Regions from separate parts of the Homo sapiens genome. Here region 1 is linked to region 2. The links come from fine-mapping of genetic effects on gene expression. A gene starts in region 2. The other region holds a variant in brackets. All regions are shown on one strand. Distances are from middle to middle. Region 1 overlaps MLXIP (MLX interacting protein). Region 2 holds the start of MLXIP (MLX interacting protein).

Region 1 (5,367 bases), 55 kb after region 2:
GCAACATTGTCTGAGAAGACAAAATGGTTCCTCTCTCTGTGATTCTTGCAGCACATCTGGGAAATGCAGACATGATCCAGCCGGGACTGATTCCTTTGCAGCCTAACCTGGACTTCATGGACACCTTTGAGCCTTTCCAGGGTGAGGACCAGAGGCAGAGAGAGCACGGTTGCCTCCATCTCCCCCAGCCCAGCACAGAGCAGATCGCTGCCTTCCTTTAAGAGGCGAGACTTGGTAGAATGGGCAAGGGGGCGAGCAAAGAATTTTTTTTTAAACTGAACTGTTTTTTGTAGTAACTGCAAGGTCTGGGAAGTTTTTCTGGGACATTGTTCAGCAAGGAAATTGGCTCTGGATTTAGCCGTGACTGTAAGCAGTTCTCCCTCGAAGCAGCAGAGGGCACTGATGACACAGCCAGCTCCCTACCAAGGCCCTGCAGTTAGATGGGTCCTTGAGCACCTGCCATTGTGACAGCAGCAGAAACGTCAGGCCTGGGAGTGTTTCAGAGCCCAGGATAGTTGCCAACATGTGTGGTTCCAACCAGAGCCCCCTTTCTACAGAAAAAAAGGTGTCTCAGGGTAATACCCTCTGTCCATGGCATCCCCCTGGGCCATGTGGGGTTTAGGGGTTTAGTCCTTGATTTGTTTGAGTCTTTTTTTTTTTTTTTTTTTTTTTTTAGAGACAGGGTCTTGCACTGTCACCCAGGCTAGAGTGCAGTGGTTCAATCATGGTTCACTGCAGCCCTGAACTCCTGGGCTCAAGCGATCCTCCCACCTCAGCCTCCTGAGTACCTGGGACTACAGGCACACACCACCACACCCAGTTCATTTCTTCATTTTTTTGTAAAGACGGGGGTCTGCTATGTTGCCCAGGTGATCCTCCTGCCTCTGCTTCCCAAAGTGCTGGGATTACAGGTGTAAGCCATCACACCCAGCCTGTTTTAGTCTTTGTTATTTTGAGACAGAGCCTTGCTCTGTAGCCCACGCTGGAGTGCAGTGGCAAGAACACGGCTCACTGCACCCTCAACCTCCCTCCTGGACTTAAGCGATCCTTCCGCTTCAGCCTCCTGTGTAGTTGGGACCACTGGTGGCACCAACCAGGCATGGTGGTTGTGGTTGGCACCTTTTTTTTTTTTTTTTTTTTTTTTTTTTTGAGACGGGAATCTCGCTCTGTCATCAGGCTGGAGTGCAGTGGTGCGATCTTAGCTCACTGCAACCCCTGCCTCCTGGGTTCAAGCCATTCTCCTGCCTCAGCCTCCTGAGTAGCTGGGACTACAGGCATGTGCCACTACACCCAGCTAATTTTTGTATTTTTAGTAGAGATGGAGTTTCACCATGTTAGCCAGGATGGTCTTGATCTCTTGACCTCATGATCTGCCTACCTCGGCCTCCCAAAGTGCTGGGATTACAGGCATGAGCCACCGTGCCTGGCCCTGTTTGAGTCTTGATTCCAGCAAATGCTGGGCACACTGAGCTCAGAAGACCCCTGCTGTTGTTTTTCAGACCTCTTCTCTTCTAGCCGCTCCATTTTTGGCTCCATGCTACCTGCATCTGCCTCAGCACCTGTACCAGATCCCAACAACCCACCTGCACAGGTAGAGGAAGCTGGGGGATGGGTGGGGGAAGGGGCTGGCAGGCACAGGGCTGCTCATCAAAGGTTTGCTGCCAGAGCAAGGCTAATGGCATAGCCACACAGTCACCAGCAAAGCGCCAAGCAGTGCTAGACCAGCACTAATGTGCAGAGGCACGATTCCATCCCTCTTTTACAGCATCCTTCAGCACCCATGGGGTGGGAGACTCTTGGTCCAGGTGTGCTTCTGCCTGAGTGCCAGGTAACCTATGTGCAGCTAGCTCTGCTCCGACTAATTAACACAGAATTAGCTAGACAGAGAAGAAAAACATGGATTACTAATAAAAATAACTTCTGTATATTTCTTTCACGTTTTACTAAGCAATCCAAAAAGTTGCTTACAGGTGCTTGGGGCTACAGAGCTGAGTGAGGTACCATTCTTTGTCCTTACGGAGCCCTCATGCTTATGCCCATGACCAGTTAGACACTGGTAACCTGGCACCATCTTCAAACGGGCTCCGGGAAGAATTGCTACTGCAGAGACTGGGATCTGAACCATTGATTCCTCGTAGCTTTTCTTATTTAGGAAGAGGTGGCCTGATGACCAGTTGACACGTGAAATTGTCCTCGGGGATTCCCGAGCAGCTGCAATCCAGGCTGCCTCTGCTCAGTAATAGAAGATGGCAGAGACTTTGGGGAGACTCTGCTGGACTCCAGAAACAAGATATTCCCAGGCTGCTAGCCAGCTGTGTGAGGGCCGTTGCCTTATCTGAGCTCTGAGTTATTTAGTTTTTAATGGAAACAAGACCCCCGCAGACACGCAGGGAAACACAAATCCCTATCAGATCAGCAGCCATGGACGTGGAGACGTGGCCTTTGTCCCTCTGTCCCAGCGCCCGGCCTGTGTAGTTGGACTTGGCAGTGTGCAGCGCTAGAAAGGAATTGTCTGACCCCAGCATTGCTTCCTGGCTCCTTTCTTCCTTTTTCAGGAGAGCATCCTGCCGACCACAGCCCTCCCCACTGTGAGCCTTCCTGACAGCCTCATCGCGCCCCCTACCGCCCCATCCCTGGCTCACATGGATG[A/G]GCAGGGCTGTGAACACACCTCCCGGACTGAGGACCCGTTTATCCAGCCCACGGACTTCGGTCCCTCAGAGCCGCCACTGAGTGTCCCGCAGCCCTTCCTCCCTGTCTTCACCATGCCCCTGCTGTCTCCCAGCCCCGCCCCACCGCCCATCTCCCCCGTGTTACCATTAGTTCCTCCTCCTGCCACTGCCCTGAACCCCCCGGCTCCACCCACCTTCCATCAGCCACAGAAGTTTGCTGGAGTCAACAAAGCGCCGTCTGTCATCACCCACACGGCCTCTGCCACCCTCACCCACGATGCCCCCGCCACCACCTTTAGCCAGAGTCAGGGCCTTGTGATCACCACCCATCACCCTGCCCCGTCAGCGGCCCCTTGTGGGCTGGCACTGTCTCCTGTCACCCGGCCTCCCCAGCCACGGTTAACTTTTGTGCACCCCAAACCTGTATCCTTGACTGGGGGCAGGCCTAAGCAGCCCCACAAAATAGTGCCTGCTCCCAAACCAGAGCCCGTGTCCTTGGTGTTGAAGAATGCCCGTATCGCCCCAGGTGAGCCAGGCGGGGAGACTCAGTGCGGGGCTCCCCCCGACCCAGAGGGATGTTTTCCCATCCCAAAGGCTTTCAAACTTGTGACCACCACCACCACCCTGGTGTGCACGTGCATGCGCACACACATACACTTAAATGAAACAAAAGTGTCATGAAATAATACATGGCCATGATCTAGTCCGTTTTCTATGCTCTATCTTTTTTGTTTTTTTGTTTGGTTTTTTTTTTTTTGAGACAGTCTCTGTTGCCCAGGCTGGAGTGCAGTGGCATAATCTCGGCTCACTGCAACCGCCCCCTCCCGGGTTCAAGCGATTCTCCTTCGTCAGCCTCCCGAGTAGTTGGGATTACAGGTGTGCGCCACTATACTCGGCTAATTTTTGTTTGTTTGTTTGTTTTTTGAGATGGAGTCTCACTCTGTCGCCTAGCTGGAGTGCAGTGGTGTGATCTCGGCTCACTGCAACCTCCGCCTCCTGGGTTCAAGTGATTCTCCTGCCTCAGCCTCCCGAGTTAGCTGGGATTACAGGCGCCCATCACTACACCCAGCTAATTTTTTGTATTTTTAGTAGAGATGGGGTTTCACCATGTTGGCCAGGCTGGTCTCGAACTCCTGATCTCAGGCGATCTGCCCACCTTGGCCTCCCAAAGTGCTGGGATTACAGGTGTGAGCCCCCACACCCAGTCTCTATTCTCTTTTTTTTTTTTTTGAGACGGAGTTTCACTGTTATTGCCCAGGCTGGAGTGAGATGACATGATCTTGGCTCACTGCAACCTCTGCCTCCCGGGTTCAAGTGATTCTCCTGCCTCATCCTCCTGAGTAGCTGAGATTACAGGCATGTGCCACCACACCTGGCTAATTTTGTATCTTCAGTAGAGATGGGGTTTCACCACATTGGCCAGGCTGGTCTCGAACTCCTGACCTCTGGTGATCCACCTGCCTCGGCCTCCCAAGGTGCTGGGATTACAGATGTGAGCCATTGCACCCAGCCTCTCTATCTTTTTTTTAAAGTTAGTCACAACCTACAGTGTGAAAACATGGTCCTGGCCATCTCTTTCCTGGGTCTATAACATGTCTCCTTCAAGAAGTCACACAAATGGTTTTAGGTGCCTTGGTGGCTTTGTCTTCCTGTCCCCTGGGGTTGAGAACAAGCTGTCTCACTGGCAGAGAGGCAGCCTCTGCAGGGTGGGCCAGGCCCTGTGGCCCAGGGCTGCACCTGAACATCCTCCTTATCCTGGCAGCTGCCTTTTCAGGCCAACCACAAGCGGTGATCATGACGTCAGGGCCTCTGAAGAGAGAAGGGATGTTGGCCTCCACCGTGTCCCAGTCCAACGTGGTCATTGCGCCTGCTGCCATCGCCAGGGTGAGGAGGGCCCTAGGCAGACCTGCAGTGTCCTTCTCACCCCGGAGCACTCTGATCTTGGGCGGCCCTCACCTGAGACGACTGGTGTGCCGCCCTGCTGTATATCAGCAGTCAGGGGTGACCTGTCTCCCATGTCACTGCAGGCTCCTGGGGTCCCGGAGTTCCACAGCAGCATCCTGGTGACAGATCTCGGCCATGGCACGAGCAGCCCGCCTGCCCCCGTCTCCCGGCTCTTCCCAAGCACAGCGCAAGACCCCCTGGGGAAGGGCGAGCAGGTCCCGCTGCATGGGGGCAGCCCCCAGGTCACTGTCACAGGGCCCAGTGAGTGTTCACTCGGCGGGATGGTTGGGGCATCGCAAGGGAAGTAACTGGGCCTGCCGTAGACCATGGGGGGTGCTTGCTGGGTCCCCAGGACGGAGCCTGGGCTTAGGACACACAGTGAGGTCTTGTAGGCCTGCTGATAACACAGTCTGGGAACACGCTCTGTGGGTGGCAGGATGAAATGTGGTGGCACTGGCAGGGCAAAAAGTAGTGAACATGTGGCAGTGTAGGTGACCCGTGTGCTCGGGGAGTCCCTGCTGACTGCCCACGAAGGCCTGGTACTGAGCTGCTGATCTCACCCAGAGAAGGGATTGAGGAGCCCTGGGCTTCCTGTCTCTGGGAGCATCAGCCTGGGGTTGCTGTGGCCACAGAAGCCGTCCAGCCTCATCTGGGCACCAACGTGGCCTTCCCCAGCAGGTCTCAGCACTACAGGTCTGTGGCCCATGTCCACTCTTAGGCCATCCAGGGGCAAGATAGTCAGAGCAGGACTGAT
Region 2 (5,367 bases):
AGAGTCTTCCCTAATACAGTCTCTTAGGAATTGACGGTGGGATTAAACAAGGCATGTTTCTGCACTGAATATGGTCTATGGGTTGCCACTTTGCAACCTCAGCTTTAAGGCTTATTTCCTCCCAGGAAACTGATGTTAACTTTTTAAGTTAAAAATGTGTATATAAGTAATACATGTTTATTTTGGAAATTAGAAAATACAGGCCAGGTGTGGTGGCTCATGCCTGTAATCCCAGCATTTTGGGAGGTTGAGGCAGGAGGATTGCCTGAGCCCAGGAGTTTGAGACCAGCCTGGGCAACATAGGGAAATTCCATCTCTACAAAAAAATTAAACATTAGCTGGGTGTGGTGGTGCCCACCTGTGGTCACAGCTACTCGGGAGACTGAGGTGGGAGGATAGCTTGGGCAGGGGAGGTTGAGGCTACAGTGAGCCACGATCACACCAATGTGACACAGTGAGACCCTGTCTCAAAAAAAAAAAAAAAGAAAGAAAATATAGGTAAACACAAAGACAAAAAAGCAGGGCATGGTGGCTCACACCTGTAATTCTAGCACCTTGGGAGGCTGAGGCAGGAGGATCACTTGAGGTCAGGAACTCGAGACGAGACCAGGCTGGGCAGCATGGCGAGACCCCATCTCTATAAAAAGTACAAAAATTAGCAGGGCACGGTGGTGTGCACCTGTGGTCCTGCTACTTGGGAAGTTGAGGTGGGAGGATCACCTGAGCCCTGGAGGTTGAGGGTGCTGTGAGCCATGATGGCACCACTCCACTCCAGTCCAGGTGAAAGAGCCAGATCCTGTCTCAAAAAAAAAAAAAAAAAAAAGTGGCTGGGCATGTAAACTTACCAAGGACCAAGGAGACAAGTCTTGAGAGAAAGGAAGGCAACTCAAAGGATGGACTTTTAAACACTTGTAACCAGCATTGGGAACAGTAGTAGGTTGAAGAGGGAAATCTAGAACTCATGCCTGAAAACTGCCAGTCATCCAGCCCATTTTTCCATACAGACATTTGGAAATAAGTTAATGGAGCCATTTTGGTGAGAGCCCTCTGTTCCCTTCAGGAGGCCTTTGTCAGGAAGAGGGTGGGGCAGGGGACTCACCCCCCACTCAAATCTGGAACTGAAACCAGCTTCAAAGCCGAGTGCAGAGCCAGCGCGGTGGCTCATGCCTGTCATCCCAGCACTTTGGGAGTCCAAGGCAGGCCTCACTTGAGGTCAGGAGTTCCAGACCGGCCTGGCCAACATGGTGATTGCACCACTGCGCTACAGCCTTGGGTGACAGAGCAAGACTCTGTCTCAAAAAACAAAACAACAATAAAACAAAGCAGAGTGCAGGAGTGGCTGTGGACTCTGGACGCCCTGCTAGGATTAGGATGGGTGTTCCTGGCTCATGGGCCTCACTGGCTCTTCTGATGCCCTGCCACCCCCACCCCAGACTGGCTTTGAGCCCCGGAAACCTTGACAGCTTTCTAGAGGTGTCTGTCAGTTAGGTTGTGCCACGCGAAGTTGCCGTTTCTGCAGGTCAAATAGTGGTGGACTATTGGCAATTTCTAGGCACCTCTGGTCTGGTTGATCCAAATCCTCCAACCTGTGGCACATTTATTTAGCGCTCATTTTGTGCCAGCCTGCCTGCTAAGCAACTTATAGCCATTTTTATTTGTATTTATTTTTCTTTTTGAGACAGGGCCTCGCTCTGTCGCCCAGGCTAGAGTGCAATGGCGCAATCTCGGCTCACTGCAACCTCCACCTCCCGGATTCAAGCGATTCTCCTGCCTCAGCCTCCCGAGTAGCTGGGATTACAGGGGTGCACCACTACGACCGGCTAATTTTTGTTATTTTTAGTAGAGACAGGGTTTCACCGTGTTGGCCTGGCTGGTCTTGAACTTCTGGCCTCAAGTGATCCACCCGCCTCGGCCTCCAAAAGTGCTAGGATTACAGGCATGAGCCACCGCGCCCCACTATAGCCATTTTTAAACTGTCCCAAGTTTCTGAGGAAACGGAATTGTTCACCATTTGACAGAGAAGAAAACTCTGGCTCAGATACTCCCCTTTTAGAATTGTTTCGGGGGCTGGCTCGTCCGTCAAACTTTAAAAAAATAACAACAGCATGCTGAGTTGAAGTTAAAAGAGCTGGGGTCTGGAGGTCGCTGGGCTCAGGGGCGCTGCCACTCAACAGCTGCGCCGAGCTGGGGACGCGCAGGGGAAGCAAGTTCCCAGCTCTGTGGACTCCAGGTCTGAGAAAAATCCTGTCGGTATTCAGCCACCCAGTGTTCCCATCAATACGATGAGAATAATGAGGACAATAGCCACCACGTCCGGCAAACTCAGGCGTGAGCTGCGAGGACTCGGTACCGCCCGGCAGGGAAAAAGCAGGGCCTGGAGGCCGAGGAGCCCCACCCGCACCCACCACGTGGAGCCGGCCGGGCCTGCGGCGAAGCCACAGGGCGACTCCCGGGGCGCGGAGCGGGGCGGGGGCGGGACTAGCACGGCCCCACTCTGCCGACGCCTCTCCCAGGTCGCGACACCGGCGAGCCGCTCCGCCCGGCCACCGTGTCCCTCAGCACCCACGGACGCCGGGAGAGGAGGAGGTGGCGAGGGGCACGGCCGGGAGGCGTGGCCTCCGCTTCCCCTTTTTTTTTTTTTTTGGTCCGCCTAGCTAAGGAAAGGTTCCCCTGCGCCTTTAAGAGGCCGACGCGGGCAGCCGATTGGCCCAGACGCCTCGGTGACGTCACGCCGGGGCCGGAGCCCTCCCCCTCCCGCCGCGCCGCGCGCTCGCGGACAGTCGGCGCGCGGGCCGGGCCGGGCCGGCGCCCCTCTGCCTCGCGCGCTTGTCGCGTTGCCCCGGGCTCCGGGGGATGCCCCCGGCCGAGCCCTTCTCATGGCCGCCGACGTCTTCATGTGCTCCCCGCGCCGGCCTCGCAGCCGGGGCCGCCAGGTGCTGCTCAAGCCCCAGGTGTCCGAGGACGACGACGACTCGGACACGGATGAGCCGTCCCCGCCGCCCGCCTCCGGCGCGGCCACCCCGGCCCGGGCCCACGCGAGCGCCGCGCCACCGCCGCCTCGGGCCGGGCCGGGCCGCGAGGAACCTCCGCGCCGCCAGCAGATCATCCACAGCGGCCACTTCATGGTGTCGTCGCCGCACCGAGAGCACCCGCCCAAGAAGGGCTACGATTTCGACACGGTCAACAAACAGACGTGCCAGACCTACAGCTTCGGCAAGACTAGCTCCTGCCACCTGTCCATCGACGCCTCGCTCACCAAGCTCTTCGAGTGCATGACTTTGGCCTACAGGTAGGGACCCCCGCGACCCCCTGAGGCCCCGGCCGGAGGCCCTTGTTTGACAAAACAAGCGTGGAGGGAAGGGCCGCCTGGCAACCCCGTGGCTTCATGCATTCCCTTTGGGTCTTCCTCCTTCGGGAGGGTTTATGGATCTGGGGTTCCCCGCGTTGCCAGAGGAGCCGGGGTCCTGGCCTCTTCCCCTGCCAGCAGTGCCGGGGTCCTTTCGGGTTCACGTTCCCCATCCAGGCCCTCCCCTCCAGTGTCCTGGGACCACCGATGTTGGACGAGGAAGAGGTATAAACACTGGCTGCATCTTGTGTTACCCGACTCTATCGACTCCTTCCTCCAAACGCTTTGTGTGTTTCCCCCATATCCAGCAGCGGTCAGGACCACCTGTTCGGGGTGACTGGAGGCTGGCTCTGCTGTTTAATGGTTGTGTAACACCTCGGAGCCTGTTTCCTCCTTTATAAAAGGGGAATGACTGTAGTGTCTGCCTCCAAGGGGCTGTTGTGGGGATGGAGTGAGATAGGTAAATTGCTTATTCCAGTGCTTGGCCAGAGTTAGGTGTCCCTGCACCTGGAGGCTGGCCCCCTTACAACCTCATCGGGAGGCCCGCCCCCATCTCGGGAGGGCTTTGGGTGCCTCCTAAGAAGACTTTTGGTGCCACAGCTGTTGGAGGTGCAGTCTGTCCTTCTGGCAAGTTGGAGGGTTTTCTGGCCGGTCCTGAAACATTATATGAGGGAGATGTCATTGTTGAGGGCAGACATCCCAGACACCGTTCTGACATGTGGATTCGGCTCTGGGCAGAGATTCCTCTTTTCCAAGTCACAGAAAATGCCTGGCCCTCAAAGATTAAAGCGCTTTTTCACTCTCTCTCCCTTTCCCACTATGAATATTAGGTATTTGCTGCAGGTAACTTTTTTGTCTGCGCAACAGAACTTCTTTGGACTGGCAGCAGCGGCCTTGAGCAGCTTGGCCCTGCAGAAAGCTCATGATGGGATCTCTGCTGAGTTAAGCTTATTGCATTAGGAACTGGACTAGCGGGGGCTGTCTTAGGTCTGCTCTGGAGGCATCGCGGGAGAAGTTTCCTAGGAGACTCCATAAACAGCGTAATAAAAGAGCAGGAATATCTTGCCCCCTCTCACCTCACCTTTTTAAGAGAGCTGTGAGCCCCAAGCATATCCAGGTTTAAATGTTATGCTTTTACCTGAAGTTAAAATATTAGATACTTAGCCCTGGATGGCACCCCCCTCACCGCCGCGGTCCCTGGAATAAACGATTAGTCAACTTGTTCTTTGTTATGTTCCTGAAACACCCCTATTTCCTCTCTTGAAGGTTTCCCTGATGATCTGTTCCCGTAGCTCCTCCTCCCATCCCCCTTACCCGGCACATTGGTCAGTCTCTGCTGATTCTCTGGTCTTGCCAGTTTGAGCTGGCACTGAGCCTGTAAAGATGTTCTGCTTTTTAAAAAACAAATGGTGTTGAGGCTGCAGCCCTGTGCGCCCTCCAGTCTCTGATTTTGAGCAGTTCCATTGGAATCAAACCCGACTGGATCGCAGCATATGCTATGCCTCGAGAGAGCCTTTTCAAACAAAGCTCGAGGTGAAAGACTGGAATGTATCTTATTAAGAAAACTTAATCCTCTTCTTTATTTTAATATAAACTTCTACATATACAGGGAGAGAATGGATGAGTCACGGGGGGCATGGACTGGAAAGGTCTCACCTAAGTAAGCTCTGCTAAATGAAAACTAAATCAGTCTCCCCTTTGCACTCTTGTTTGGATAACCTAAAGGCTTATTAAACAACACCAAATAATTTTAGTAATGGCATTTTTTTTTTCATTTCTCTCAAAAATATTTTGGCAGCTGGCCGTTGCTCAGTTAACTTTCTTGATTGCAAAATGCACCATCAGTTTGGTGCAAGAAGCTTATCTTGCTCTCTTGGCTCTCTCACTTTCGCTGCTTTTCCCTGTGCCTAAGGTCTCCTGCTGCCTAAGGTCGGCCACCTAAGGTCTACCACCACAGGCCCTCGGATGGGATCTGTCCAGTCATTTCTCATGAAGATGCCCTTTGTCTGTCTGTGTGAGGC

What was found.
Region 1: its variant is fine-mapped to the expression of MLXIP in whole blood (TOPMed, PIP above 0.99).

Annotation. Positions count from the first base shown.
Region 1 is chr12:122,130,793-122,136,159 of GRCh38, forward strand. MLXIP (MLX interacting protein) reads left to right here. Exons shown (of 17, transcript NM_014938.6): 7 at 52-141; 8 at 1,500-1,591; 9 at 2,556-3,195; 10 at 4,432-4,553; 11 at 4,697-4,874. Among named protein-coding and RNA genes, the nearest start is that of IL31, 41 kb to the right of the region's middle. The variant A/G (reference allele first, on the strand shown) is at 2,650.
Region 2 is chr12:122,075,978-122,081,344 of GRCh38, forward strand. MLXIP (MLX interacting protein) reads left to right here and starts at 2,779. Exons shown (of 17, transcript NM_014938.6): 1 at 2,779-3,289. The coding sequence starts at 2,877. RefSeq lists enhancers at 1,005-1,054, 3,122-3,361, 5,229-5,278, 5,349-5,367 and silencers at 2,322-2,601, 2,612-3,061.